2 linked regions of the Homo sapiens genome follow. The protein of the gene in region 2 interacts with the protein of the main gene of each other region in a pairwise test. Each region holds a gene or a part of one and is shown on either strand. Other genes may lie near its edges.

Region 1 (8,028 bases), on a different chromosome or scaffold from region 2:
GCTCGCTGCAACCTCCTTTTCCCAGGTTCAAATGATTCTCCTGCCTCAGCCTCCTGAGTAGATGGGACTACAGGCGCGCGCACCGCCATGCCCAGCTAATTTTTGTATTTTTAGTAGAGACGGGGTTTCACCATGTTGGCCAGGATGGTCTCAATCTCTTGACCTTGTGATCTGCCCACCTCGGCCTCCCAAAGTGCTGGGATTACAGGCGTGAGCCGCCGTACCCAGCCACCTTTGTTATTAATGAAAAGCTTTTCCCCTTCTAATTTCTTATCTGTGGATTGATAATAGTGCCATTCATTTCACTTTGAGAAATACGCAGAACTCATTGTCCAGTGGTCACTGCTTTGTTAGAGTATAAGTTATTGGCCTCAATAGTTTGTTCTCTGGTCTCCTCAGTTAAAAAGGACTTTTTTATGGGTCTAAGACAGGCTAAAGGTAGTATGTGGACTTTAATAGATACATATATCCAACGGGCAATATTTGACACTAGGCAAGCTGAAGAAAGTGTGAATTTTGAATATCTTATGTTTTGTGGAAGGTGAGGGATGAGTGCTTCCCCCCCACACACATATCAATTAGTTATTTTTGACAAAGTTAGTGTTAGTGTCATCTGGAAGCTACAGAAATTATTTAAAAAACAAAAAAACAAAAAAACTTTGGCTAGAATTGTTAGAAGCTGGCTTAGTCTGAAGGCACCCAGTACAAATTGTGTTTTAGAATGTTTTAAGAATGTTACTGATTTCGCCCCAAGCTGGCCCATGCACAGGAAGCCCTTCATGTGCACTTTGCTCCTCAAGGAAAATTAATATTTTTCCTAGATGGAACCCTATGGTGCTTATTCCCTGATCTCTTAGAGCATTTGCTGCAAAAGCCTGTTTTTGCCAGAGCTACTTTATTCCTGTAACACAGGGAGTCCTGGGATTCACATTGGCTCTCTTGGGCCAGGGAGAACTCTGGAAAGGTGACTGAGATCAGTTGCTCTGCTGGGAGTTTTGGCTTTTCATACTGAGACAGGCTTTGCACAGTGTCCAGTTCTCTTCCTTATGTCCATCAATAAGTATTTATTTATTGAGCTACTTGTGTTTGCTAAGCACTGTGCCAGGACTAGTGAGGTAAAAGGAAAAAAAAGTGGGTCCCTGTACTCAAAACAGATTCCACTCCTGGTGGGTAGGGGTGGTGGACAACGACAATGTACAGTGAAGGACAAGGAGGGTGTGAAGTGGGAACTGTGGAAATGGTCATTATAAAGCCAAAATTTTTGATTAAGCCTTGGTTACAATTAAAAGAAACAATGGTATCAAGTTGGTTGCTCTGAGAAAAATAAATCCTAGGCTAGTTACTTCCCTCAGTGGGATATGAGGAAGAAGAGGGTGGAGGTTAGGAACACTGAGCAGACAAGTGGAGAAGATCTTATTTAAATTGAAAATCACACATGTTCTCTTTTGTTTACAGGGAAGCAGGAAGTTTCATGAGACAGTCACAGTTCTTTCTGTGCCATTAAACACAAAATTCTTTGAGATAGTTATTCAGTATTAAATATATGTTTCATGTTTAATCTCCCTGGAATGAAACTTTGAACATCAGTGCATGTAAAATGTACTTTTCACTTAATTTGTAGAATTTGATTTTACTTTAATCTATTACTGCATAAATCCGCTGAGAAAAATCTCCGGCCCTTAACTGTGTTTCTGTCTTACTAGCTGAACAAGTAAAATGAATTGTGATGCTGGGGGATTAAAATCCAAACAATTTGATACCTTGTTTCTTCAGTAGAACCCTCAACAGACCTGCCCTGTGCAGTTCCCACCAGCTTCTTTGAACTGAGGCTCTGTGGCCCAGAGAGACCATTTAAATCTTGTGATAATTTTGTATTCATTCAATCCTTTTGTTTCTAAAAGTGGTAGCCATACCAAGATTCTCCAGGATCTAGTCTATCCTATTCTTAAGGGATCTTAAAACAGTGGATTGGTTGCCTAAGCATATAGTACGAAGGGTTTCCTGGTGATGCATTTGGTCTCTGAGCTGTCCAAATCTGCATGTTAGTCCACTACTCAATTTTCAGTGATCATTTTTACATTACAAATTTTAGACACATATACCTGAATTACAGATACTGCATGGAAGGGAATCTCAGTTTGGTTCCATTCGATTATCCAAGATGATGTGTTTCCTTATTCTGTTTACGTGTCATTTGAAAATCCTTGATTTAAAAAAAAAGAAGGCTGGGTGCAGTGGCTTACGCCTGTAATCCCAGCACTTTGAGAGGCTGAGGTGGGAGGATCACCTGAGGTCCGGAGTTAGAGACCAGCCTGGCCAACATGGTGAAACCCCATCTCTACTAAAAATACAAAAATTAGCTGGGTGTGGTGGTGCACACCTGTAATTCCAGCTGCTCGGGAGGCTGAGGCAGGAGAATCACTTGAACCCAGGAGGCGGAGGTTGCAGTGAGCCAAGATTGCGCCACTGCACTTCAACCTGGGTGACAAAGTGAGACTCTATCTCAGAAAAAAAGAAGAATCTTGGTGTGAAGTAGTGCTTTCTAAGGATTTGAGCATTGGATGGGATCAAGTGATGTATATAAATCCTTTCTCTACCTTGAACCACAGGAGCAACTCACCATACCTGGTACATGAATAGAAGAGTGATTTGTCTATAGAGTTGGGATAGTTTGAGACGTAACAGCTATGAAATATTTTATAGTGATTACTTACACACAAAATGTTTTCCCACTCATTAGCCCTAGCTGACCTCACCTTACTTTATTATCCACCCTGTCCTCTCCAGTGTTAGCTTCTCTCCTCATTCTTTACATGCTGACCCTTTTTATGCACAATCCTTTTTGATGGATTTGACTACATGGAACAAGCTTCCTGTGCTTATTTGCCTCACTAATTTCTTGTTGTTAAGTTGCCCCCTAAAAGTTTACTGTCTCTTGATATTCTTTTTCTAACGTTTTTACAAGGGTTAAGCCCTCCTGGTGGGTTTCTTAGAGTGTTTTAATATTTGAAATTATTTATATGCTTTAGGAAGTAGAATCCTTCCCCCTTCTCTATCAGAACAACCCAAGATTATTCTCTTAGTGTGCATTTTCTTCCACTGTACTTCAGATAAACTGAAAAACTGAAAGATTGTTTCCAAAGGTTCTTATAATACAAGGACTGGTCTAAGAGTAAATTTTTTAGTGAGTCGTCTTCAGATCACTTCAGAATTAGCAGTTATTGCCGTGATATTGGAGGGAGAAAGTTAAGGGAGCCGCCTGTCTTTAGTTGCCTTGGAGAAACTGTTTCTTCAGGGTACTAGACAAGTTTCCCAACTTAGGTGCCTCCTTTATTCCCTTTTTAAAAGAATAGCAATATGAAACTGCCGTAGCATCCTTAAAACACTGAACTACTTGCTGTCTCTGTCATTTTGGCAGCATTATCTTTAGCATTGTTTGAATGTTTTGTCTAATTCTTGTAATAAAAATAAAATGCTTGTCTAATCCTTAAAAAGATTTCTCTGAGGCTAGGCACGGTGGCTCACGCCTGTAATCCTAGCACTTTGGGAGGCCGAGGTGGGCAGATCACGAGATGAAGGGTTTGAGACCAGCCTGACCAACATGGTGAAACCCCATCTCTACTAAAAATACAAAAATTAGCTGGGCATGGTGGTGTGTGCCTGTAATCCCAGCTACTCAGGAGGCTGAGGCAGGAGAATCACTTGAACCCAAGAGGCAGAGGTTGCAGTGAGCTGAGATGGCGCCACTGCACTCCAGCCTGGGCAATGGAGCAAGACTGTGTCTCAAAAAAAAAAAAAAAAAAAAAGATTTCTCTGAGGTAATTACATTGTAGAATCCTGAACCCTTTTTTTTTTTTTTTTTTTTTTTTTGATATGGGGTCTCACTCTGTTGCCCAGGCTGGCTCACTGCAACCTCAACCTCCCGGGCTCGAGTGATCCTTCTGCCTCTCGAGTAGCTGGGACTATAGATGTGTGCCACCATGCCCAACTAATTTTTGTATTTATTGTAGAGATAGGGTTTCACCATGTTGCCCAGGCTGGTCTGAAACTCTTGGGCTCAAGCAGTTTGCCTATCTCTGCGTCCTAAAGTGCTGGGATACAAGGCGTGAGCCACTGCACCCAGCCTGTAAAATCCTAAACATTAAGGTCCTGTATCGTAGTAGTAGTAGTTGTAGTTTTAGGGGTTTTGGTATATAGTAAGTAAGATATCACATAGGCAGAATATGTATTTTGCACATTTTCCATAATACATATTCATATTGTAAATGCTTACTGTGTGATACAGTTTATGTTCTTGTCCTGTTTTCTGGCCCTTATATTTTAGAGAACTTTAACTGTTTTTTGTATATCATTGAATATTGGCTGGGCATGGTAGTCACCCCTGTAATCCCGGCACTTTGGGAGGCCGAGGCCAGTGGATCACTTGAGTCCAGGAGTTCCAGACTAGCCTGGGCAACATGGTGAAACCCTGTCTCTACAAAAAAAATTTGAAAATTAGCTGGGCATGGTTGCGCATGTCTGTAGTCCCCAGTTACTTGGGAGACTGAAGTGGGAGGATCACATGAGCCCAGGAGGTTGAAGCTGCAGTGAGTTGTAATTGCACCACTGCCCTCCAGCCTGGGTGACAAAGTGAGACCCTGTCTCAAAAAAAAAAAAAAGTCTCCTAGATACATGTCATGGTAATGCATTGGGCCTGTATGTCATTTAAGAAATAGAACTTAGTAGGGGAAAACCCCTGTTGTTATTCCCTTCCCTTTTATTTATTTTTTATTTTCTCCGATGGAAAGATGGGATTGTGTACAATGAGTTTAGAGCTTTCCTAAATCATTTATACCAATCAAGGGATTTAAATCAGTAACTCCCAATCTTTTCTGCATTTTTGTACCCACTTTCATGCTTTTCCTCTGCATTCTGTTTCTAAATAAATTTATTATTAAATAGACAAGTGAATTTTATGTAACACTTGATTTTGGAAATAGCATAAGATACTGAAAATAAGTTTTCATTAGCTTATCTTAGATGTGGTCTTTAGAAGCTGACCTTATTGATAACAGCAGCCCATGCATCTCATTATGCATTCTTTCTTTGCTTGCTTAATCACCCAGTGCTTTTTGATTCTTGCCGTTGGCTAAAGCCAGAAACTTTACAGACTATTAACAGAATCTTGAGGGGAAAAAAATGTACATAAGCATAATTAAGTGATACAGTTTCAAAAGGAGGTTTTTCTTACTTTGTTTCCTGGGGTAGGACAAGGAAGTTTTGTACATGTTTTACCAAGTATTTAACTGGATTCTAATAAACTAGAGTGAAATAGAATGAACAAAATGAAGTTTGCAGACCTACCTTTGCCAACCCCTCATCTCTTAGGACCCAGAGTTCAACAATACAGATCAGATTGACCTGTATGATGATGTGCTGACAGCCACCTCACAGCCCTCAGATGACAGAAGCAGCAGCACTGAACCACCTCCTCCTGTTCGCCAGGAGCCATCTCCCAAGCCCAACAACAAGACCCCTGCAATTCTGTATACCTACAGTGGCCTGCGTAATAGACGAGCTGCCGTTTATGTGGGCAGCTTCTCCTGGGTGAGTGTGGGTAACCAAAAATGCTTAGGGGTGGGCTGGAGGGAGAGCACTGGGAGGTGATGGCATTTTCAGAAACTACTGTTGCACTGTTTTGTGCTCTGATGGGGTTGGATTTCTTTTTCCTGGGATCAGGTTGGATTGATCTCTGAAAGAGAACTATCCTGAGGACGTACTGGTGCCGAAGAAAGCAATGATTAAGTGGGTAGTTGCTTTTTCTGCCATCTTGTTACTGCCCCTGACCCTGGGGCTTTATGTCTAGCAGGGTCATCTGAGGGACGAGATTTCAGAGTGAACACCTTGAACTCTTGGTGGTCATTAGATGGTCCTGTGATAATGGTGGGTGATGGGGATTAAAGACCTTGATAACTCTAGTATACTTGGGGTAGGTGGTGACTGTTGTTCTGCAAGTTATTTTGTGATGTTTTGGGGCTGGTGGTGGGGGTGGTTTTTCCAAATTAGGAAGTATATTTACTGTGGGGGAAGTTCTGGCAATGGTCAACTCTAGCCTGACAGATCTATAATTAAAAAATTGCTAGCTGTCAATGTTTGAACTGATGACCAGCCAGCCCAAACGGCAGTCAAAGTTACAATAAGTTTTAATCTTCGTAATCTCTAAAGATGGAGATTGGGGGTGAGTGGGTTTGGAATTCTGTATGGGTGAGGACAATAAGAAAAGTCTGCACTAATTGAAATATTGCCAGGCTTTTGAGTTTCCTCTGGGGGGACTTAGTTGTGACTAGAATCCTGGGTTTGGGACATTGGCGGGCGGGGGTGTAGCTCTTGACATCTCTTCCTTTTCCATCTTGCCGGCCCCAGTGGACCACAGACCAGCAGCTGATCCAGGTTATTCGCTCTATAGGAGTCTATGATGTGGTGGAGTTGAAATTTGCAGAGAATCGAGCAAATGGCCAGTCCAAAGGGTGAGGTCTGGATTTGAGAAGCCCCTTTTAATTTGTAACCATTGGGATAAAAGATCTGTACTATATTTTGGCCCTGGATTTTAATCACTCCCACCCCTGGCCCAGCTTACTGCCTTGGTTTTGGCAAACTGCCTTAGAAAGGGACCTAGCTGCAGTGTAGTAGAATATCCATCTGTTAAGGGGCGAAGAATACTGATTTTTAATTCCAAAAAAATAAAGATTTAGGCTGTCTCTTTGTTGTTAGTGCTGTATGTGTGTTTAGTTTAGCAAGATGTCCTTTGCTTTATCAATTTTTACTAAAAGTGGAAGAGAATTTCTTTTTTCTTCTCTTGGCTGTCTACAGATTTCATTCATTTTTAATTTTTCTTTCCTAAGGTATGCTGAGGTGGTGGTAGCCTCTGAAAACTCTGTCCACAAATTGTTGGAACTCCTACCAGGGAAAGTTCTTAATGGAGAAAAAGTGGACGTGAGGCCGGCCACCCGGCAGAACCTGTCACAGTTTGAGGCACAGGCTCGGAAACGTGAGTGTGTCCGAGTCCCAAGAGGGGGTACGTGGAGACCATCTGTATGAGGGGGGGGTGTTTGTGGGTTTGTTTTCTATGGTGTAGGCTTAGCCTACAGTGTGGGTGAGTTTGGGGGAGGGTGATGGTGGTTGTGAGTGGTGTCATGGTCGACAAGTAGTCCTCAGAATAGGTCTATATAGAAGAAAGAGCATTGTGCTGGGAGTCAAGTAGGTTCAGGTTGTAGTTTGGTTCTGCCACTGACTCGTGTGACCTTGGCCAAGTCACTTTACTACTTAGGGCCTGTTTCCCCATCTGGACTAGTGACATGATGTTTAAAGTTCCATCACCTCTAAATTCTGTGTTTCTGTCTAAAACTTGGCATTAGGTGAATGGGCTTAATTTTTAAGACATGCCTCTCTATAAATTATCAAGAAGCAGCCACCCTAAAATGTAACTAAAAGGTGCCTATAATCTTTTCATAAACGTTGATTGGAAGGATACTGTAAGGAATCAACCAAGAGGAGTGTTGGAGAATAAGACTTGAACAATATTTCTCCAGCATTGTCCAGGGGAGAGGGTGCTCTTTTGATTACCAAATGTTTTAGTCTGCTTGGCAGTTATATCCCATTAGTAAAGAAAGTTACAGGCCGGGCGCGGTGGCTCACGCCTATAATCCCAGCACTTTGAGAGGCCGAGGTGGGTGGATCACGAGGTCAAGAGTTTGAGACCAGCCTGGCCAACATGGTGAAACCCCATCTCTACTAAGAATACAAAAATTAGCCGGGTGTGGGTGACACATGCCTGTAATCCCAGCTACACGGGAGACTGAGGCAGGAGAATTGCTTGACCCCGGGAGACGGAGGTTGCTGTGAGCTGAGATCAGACCACTGCACTCCAGCCTGGGCAACAGAGCAAGACTCCATCTTGGAGGGAAAATAAAAAAGTTAGGGGCTGGGCATGGTGGCTCACACCTGTAATCCCAGTGCTTTGGAAGGCTGAGGCGGGCAGATACCTGAGGT
Region 2 (6,100 bases):
CCTGAGTAGCTAGGACTACAAGCGGGCACCACCATGTGCAGCTGTTCTTCATTTTTTGTAGAGATGGAGTCTTCCTATGTGGCCCAGGCTGGTCTCAAACCCCTGGCCTCAAGTGATCCTCCTGCCTTAGCCTCCCAAAGCTTAGGCTGCCAAGGGAGCAGTGCTTTGGAAGATGCAACAGCCTGCTTGCTCTGTTGTTCCCCTCCTGCCATGTGACAGATACTCCTTTCTAATACCTGTGGTCCCTACCTGTCCATGGACATGCTCACAGGTCTCCAGGGAGCAGAACTAAAATGCGTTCAGGAGCTCGGGCTGGCCCAGTCAAGTCCTTGGTTCAAGGCCAGGTTCTCTTAACACTCAGTGGGTGTGACCAGATTCTGTGGTGGTCACAAAGCTACGTGTCCACAGGGCCTCCACATTCTAGGGTCACCCTTTCCTTTGATACTCACATCTAATGGCCTAAGCCTCTATTCCACACAGTCTGCAAAGCCCAGCAGCTTACCAAGGATTTTGTGTAAATGGCTTAGAATTGTTTTTTAAAAAATTCAGCTGAGAGTCTTTACCTTTACACCAGAACAATGTAATTCTAGGCAGGGTGCAGTGGCTCACGCCTGTAATCCCAGCACTTTGGGAGGCCCAGGCAGGCAGATCACCTGAGGTCAGGAGTTCGAGACCAGCCTGGCCAATGTGGTGAAACCCCGTCTCTACTAAAAATACAAAAATTAGCCAGGCATTGTGGTGCATGCCTTTAATCCCAGTTACTCCAGTTACTCAGGAGGCTGAGGCAGGAGAATTGCTTGGACCTGGGAGGCGGAGGTTGCAGTGAGCCGAGATCACACCACTGCACTCCAGCCTGGGCAACAAGAGCAAAACTCCGTCTCAAAAAAACAAAAAATAATGTAATTCTGATACCAATGTGGGTCTAAAAATTTTTGTGCTGTTTGTTCCCCTAGGTCTGTTTTTCTCTCCTTTACCATTGTTTTGTTTTCTTCTTGCTTGGAGGTTAAATGCTGTCTCTATCCTTTTAGGGGTTTCCCTCTTCCCTGAGATTTCTCAAGATGCCCAGGGTGCCTTAAGTCTGCCTGTCCCTTCTTGTTCCTCATTCTTATTCCTATTAATTCTCCATCGTGCTTACTTCTTGCCTCCTGTTTGTTGTTCTTTCCCTCTTTTCTTCATACATTCACCATTAACGGTGCACCAACCTTTTACTTAACATCAGGTAGATAACATGGTGGGGGAGACAAGTTGCTGAGCTTCTTAGAGCCCCTTGGCCATGAGGAGTCCCTGCCCACATCCCTCCTCAGGTGCTAGCTGGGTAGGCTGTGTCAGATCCCCTCTATAAGCCTTCCCTCCCAGAGCCCCAACCCCACTTCACACCTCCCTGGTCCACCCTACTCACCCTCCTGCTGTCACTGTCCCCTCACCTTGCCCAGTTCTTCTCCTTGTATTTCTCATTATCTGAACTCATATTTAAGTTGTCTGTCTATCCCATTAAGCCTCACAGTGGTGTCTTGTTCACCACCATATCTCAAGAGCATGAAACCATGCCTGGCACACAAGCAGTGAAGACAAGCAGTGGATATTTGTTGAACACATGGGTGAATTCTGGCATTCTAAGTCTTCAGTGGGACCATCTACCTGTCAATCCCAGTGGAACTGGTGCAATGAAGTGGAAAAGGGGTCTCCTGGGATCCCACTCCCACCCCAGGTGCTGGGGTATGGACTGCCCACCTCTGGGTCCCAAAGACCCCCACAGCTGAAAAACTGGACTCAAGGGAGCAGATAGAGTAATGTACTAACATTTTTAATACAGTCTGATCAGATCAATTCACATCACAAGGTCAACCTGGGCTTGCTCACATGTGACACAACTGAGGTACACAATGTCCCTACCTGCCGGCTGTCCCACCTTCCTGGTTCCCAACAGCATTGAAACCCCCTACTTCCCTGACCAGACTGGCATTTTTTAAAATTTTGCATAAAACTATTTCTTCCATAGACTTCAAACAATCAACTAGCCAAGTTAATTATGGTACATCTAAACAAAGTTTAATACTAACCCTAATGTGTGACTGCGGTTTACAAAGAGCTCTGTATCACCTGGGATAGCTTTCAGTAGCAATTCACTACAACTGGTCCTAAAAAATAATAACAATAATAATAATAATTAGAGAATTAAAACCCAACAGCATGTTGAATGGTTAAAATCACGTAAGAACTGAAATTTGGGGTGGGGGTGTCCTCAACAGCTGAGCTTGTCCTAGCAGTGAAAATGCTCGCCTCCAAGCAGGGCTCAGAAAGGTCTGGAGCCCTCCAGGCAGAGGGCTGAGCTCAGGGGGCTCTTGGAGGACACTCACCCCATGGTCCATGGGATGCTTCTGGCTTCCTTAAAAACAGTTGGGCATCCGCATTGTATAAGTAGGTGGAGACCCTAGTGTGGTTCTTTTGAAGGATATGGGAAGGGAGGATGACGAACTAGAGAAGTGGGAGGGGACCAAAATCACTGAGGTCCCAGAATATCATAGATTTGGGTATAGGATTGGGGTCACTAAGAATTGAGCACCAGGAATTCCAGCTTCTTCCCATTAAAGAAACTGGGACTGGTTTTGCCTTGGAGGCCTATGTAGTGTTTTCTGCCCCTGTCCCATACCAAGTCTCATTGATATTTCTGCAGAATATCAGATGAAAATCTATTTCTAAAGACCATTGGGAGAATGGGTGGTGGAGAAGGAGTTGGAGTGGGGTTGGGGGGCAGTTAAAAATGAATAAAAATCTCTCAGCTACAGAACCCAAACATCACTTCCCTCCGCATTCACAGCATTTCCCAGCAGTCCCCAGATGGTTGTTTCCGTGGGGACACAGCAGCTGCCTCATTTCCCTTCAGGCCCCATGGGCTGCTGGTCAACCTCAGGATCTACTAAAGATGACGCAAATGCCGACTGAACAATCTGAAACCCAAAGGACTCGAGGAGAGACATGTTCTGCTGAGGAGAGAAAGGTGAGCCAAGGGCAGGGCCCAGGTCCCCCAGGGGGCCCCCGAGAGCCCGGACATGCACCTTCTGGATGTGTTTGTTCAAGTAGGACTTAGAGCGGAAGAAGCTCCCACATTCAGGGCATGGGTACTTCTTCTCCCCATCAGACTCCATTTTGTTTTTGGGGACTGCCATGTCGCAGGAGAAAGAGCCATTGGCACTCTGCTTCTCTGGCGTCTTCAGGTCGCTGGCATCTGAGAGGTCACCATAGGAGTCAGAGCTCTCAATCGGATCCTGATGTGAGCATTTCTGGCCTTCTACGAAAAAACAAAATATAGGAGAGCGATGAGGCCAGGCTCTGGAGATGCCCCCTCCTGGAGGGGTCATGAGGGGCCAGCTCACAGACCTGTGGAGGGCAGCCATTGGCCAGCCACTGCCCTGGCAGAACCCACGGAGGGTCAGCTGGTCAGTCTGGGAGCCTGGAGTGCCTACAGGGGTGAAACGGCAGGGCCCTAGGGCTGCCAGCCTCCCTTGCTGTGGACTCTTCATGCAGCTGCACATGTACTGCTCACCGTCATCTCAGCCTGCTTCAAGGAAGGGATACAGAGAGGGCAACTCTGCTACAGCTGCCCAGAACAACTCAAAGACCCCCAACTCCTAGGCGCTCTTTTGGGTGCCTCTGAGGGTAAAATTGGTATTCTGATGATGCCGAGCCAGTGTAATAGTAGCCTCGCCTCCTGCACCAGACTAGCTGCACCCTAGCAAGACAGGCAGAACCAGAGCCATTAGGTCCTCAACCTGGGTAGACCCCATCAATGGCTCAGACAGAAGCCAATCCTTTTCCTAATGCTGCAAACATAGCCCTGTCCTTACCGCCTTCCTTCTGCCAAAACCTTTTCAGGGCCAAGCAGCCCAAGCACAGAGATTGAAAGCAACTCTGTACTACTCAGTCGGCTGGGTGTCCCCACCCTAGGCCCCAGACAAGCTGGGCCAAGAGACAACCCTGGCTGCTCTGCCTTGCCCGGCCCACACTGGAGTCCTCCACCAATCAGCAGCTTCCTGCCTGGGTCCAGAGAGCCATGCCGGGAAGGGAGGTCTGTGATGGGAGCATGGAGCATGCCATCTCTGCTGTTTCTACCATCTGCCAAGCCCCTGGCCTCATCCCCAAGGCAACGACAACGTGACATACCACAAAACAACCTGAATCAACAAGTGAAGGTGGGCCTGGGGAGCTTTCTGCAAACCAACTCCCAAGTCAGAGGAGTCAGATAGCTCATTATTGCCATGCATCTCACAACCATAGCCAGAGGCTCTCCAGAAAGGGCCACTCACAGTAACCAACCACTCCTACTGTGAGAGAAGCCAGACATTGGCTCCCACCGGCCCACTGGGTCAAAAGAGGAGAAAGCATTCAGCCGCAGCTCCACACCATCCTAAAGGGCAGCAGGCAGTGACAGGCCCATAGTGACTCATCATGCAGGGCTCTTCTTCTGCCCAGGGCCCGGGGCATCCCTGCAGGGCTCCAGACAGTGGGGGCTGGCCAGGAGGAAAGGAGGAGGGCTGGGGAAGAGGAGGCGGAGGCTGGATCTCGGCAGTGCCCTAAAGCCTCACTCACTGCCCTGGAGTGAGATACCCACTGTGACTTTTGTCCTGGAGGCCACTGCCACTCAGATCTCTGAGTCTCCTCAAGGCAGCCAGAAAGCCGGCAGCCTTCCCGCCTCCCCACGCCCAGCCCAGCGCCCCCACAACACAGTCTGCGCAGAGAAGCAAAGTGCAGAGCAAGGGGTCGCTTGCCTTTGTTGCCATAGGTCCTGGCGCAGTGGAACGCTGCTCCCCCATTCAGGATGGGCTCCTGGTGCCTGGAGACCTGGGGAAGGGGAACACCGTGGTGGGTTTTAACATGGACCTTTAAGTAGGAGGCAGAGGAGAAACCTAAACAAGACAAAAGGAGATGAGATCCCGCGGCCAGCAAGAGATACCTCTCTCCTTCCCCCAACTCCTCTCCTCTGGCCGCTCTGGCTAGCATTCCCAGGTCAGCTGCACCTAGAAGGGGCCCCCTCCTGGCTCAAAAATGGCTGCAACCACATGAGCCATGTGACTCAGGATGGAGGGTGGCACTGTCCACAAATCGGCTTCTCTGCAGAGCCCACTCTGCAAGGCTGCGGTGAGGGGCTGAGGCTGGCTGCCTGGTGGGATGGCCTGAGATCCTGCTCCTGCTAGGGCCAGAGGCCAACTGCCTCTAGGGTTGCTTGGTGCCTCAGTAACAGGTGGTTTGAGTGGATGTCTCCTGCAGGAACCATGACTAGAAATGTGGTTAGACAAGAATTTGAGGCTCCAGGGAAGCCACAGGATTCTAGCCAGCAGGATGCCTGCTTAATCCTCGTAAAAGGAAACTGGACAACAAACGAGATGGAGGTAAAATGAAATCCCAAAGGAACGCCTCCAAGGATCCCGTCTTCTACCTGTCAGGAGATGTTCTATTTTTCTAACTTCCCCACCTTCAGCATAACAGGATTTAGTAACTGTTTAGACCTTTTGAAGAACAAAGACAAAAATAGGAAGTTGTGTCAGAGGAGTGCAGTCATCTCTTATTCATGGTAGTGTTTTGGTTCGATTTTGGAGCATCCACCAGGTTCGCGTACAGGAGAAGAAACACGGATGATCTCTGTCTTTATTTTGGGGGAGGACAATCCGGCCTTCTTGGGACTGTTCCAGCCCACCTCCCAGATGCTTCGGTCAGTCTGATCCACGAGATATCTCAGGCTGGGAAGAACACATCTTGGGCCAACTTCCACAGCAGCCATGCGTCCAAGGATACAGAATCAGGCAGGCCGATAAAAGGATTTTGACTTGGGTTTCACAGGAAGGAGGTATGCCATCAAACCCCACTGTAGTCAAGGATCAGAAGGTGCTTTTAGCAGGAACTGAAGCTTTTTAGTATAAGGCCCACTTAGGGTGCCAGCACCCTGACAGTGTCCCTTTAATCCACTTCAGATCTGGTTGACTCATCATCAGGTGTTTCCATTCACTTTCAAAATTACACAGTCACAGGATAACAGTGAGATCCACTGCTAAAGGGTAAAGGGTCAGAGGCTGAAGAGTACTGTGTAATGTCTGCATGAGATTTG

The links. Proteins that work in one complex are often made in the same cells at the same time.
Region 1: the proteins of PATZ1 (region 2) and CPSF7 interact in binary tests that used the Homo sapiens proteins (3 or more experiments, as listed by UniProt).

Annotation. Positions count from the first base shown.
Region 1 is NC_000011.10:61,418,948-61,426,975, reverse strand, and holds part of CPSF7 (cleavage and polyadenylation specificity factor subunit 7), read left to right. Parts: intron 1-5,337; exon of another isoform or gene 5,338-5,367; coding exon 5,368-5,586; intron 5,587-5,718; exon of another isoform or gene 5,719-5,784; intron 5,785-5,845; exon of another isoform or gene 5,846-5,919; coding exon of another isoform or gene 5,920-5,922; intron 5,923-6,402; coding exon 6,403-6,506; intron 6,507-6,881; coding exon 6,882-7,027; coding exon of another isoform or gene 7,028-7,054; intron 7,055-8,028.
Region 2 is NC_000022.11:31,324,021-31,330,120, forward strand, and holds the end of PATZ1 (POZ-, AT hook-, and zinc finger-containing protein 1 isoform long C), read right to left. Parts: intron 4,905-6,100; coding exon 4,767-4,904; intron 3,290-4,766; coding exon 2,871-3,289; 3' UTR 1,784-2,870; downstream 1-1,783. UniProt on the Homo sapiens protein: Transcriptional regulator that plays a role in many biological processes such as embryogenesis, senescence, T-cell development or neurogenesis. Interacts with the TP53 protein to control genes that are important in proliferation and in the DNA-damage response.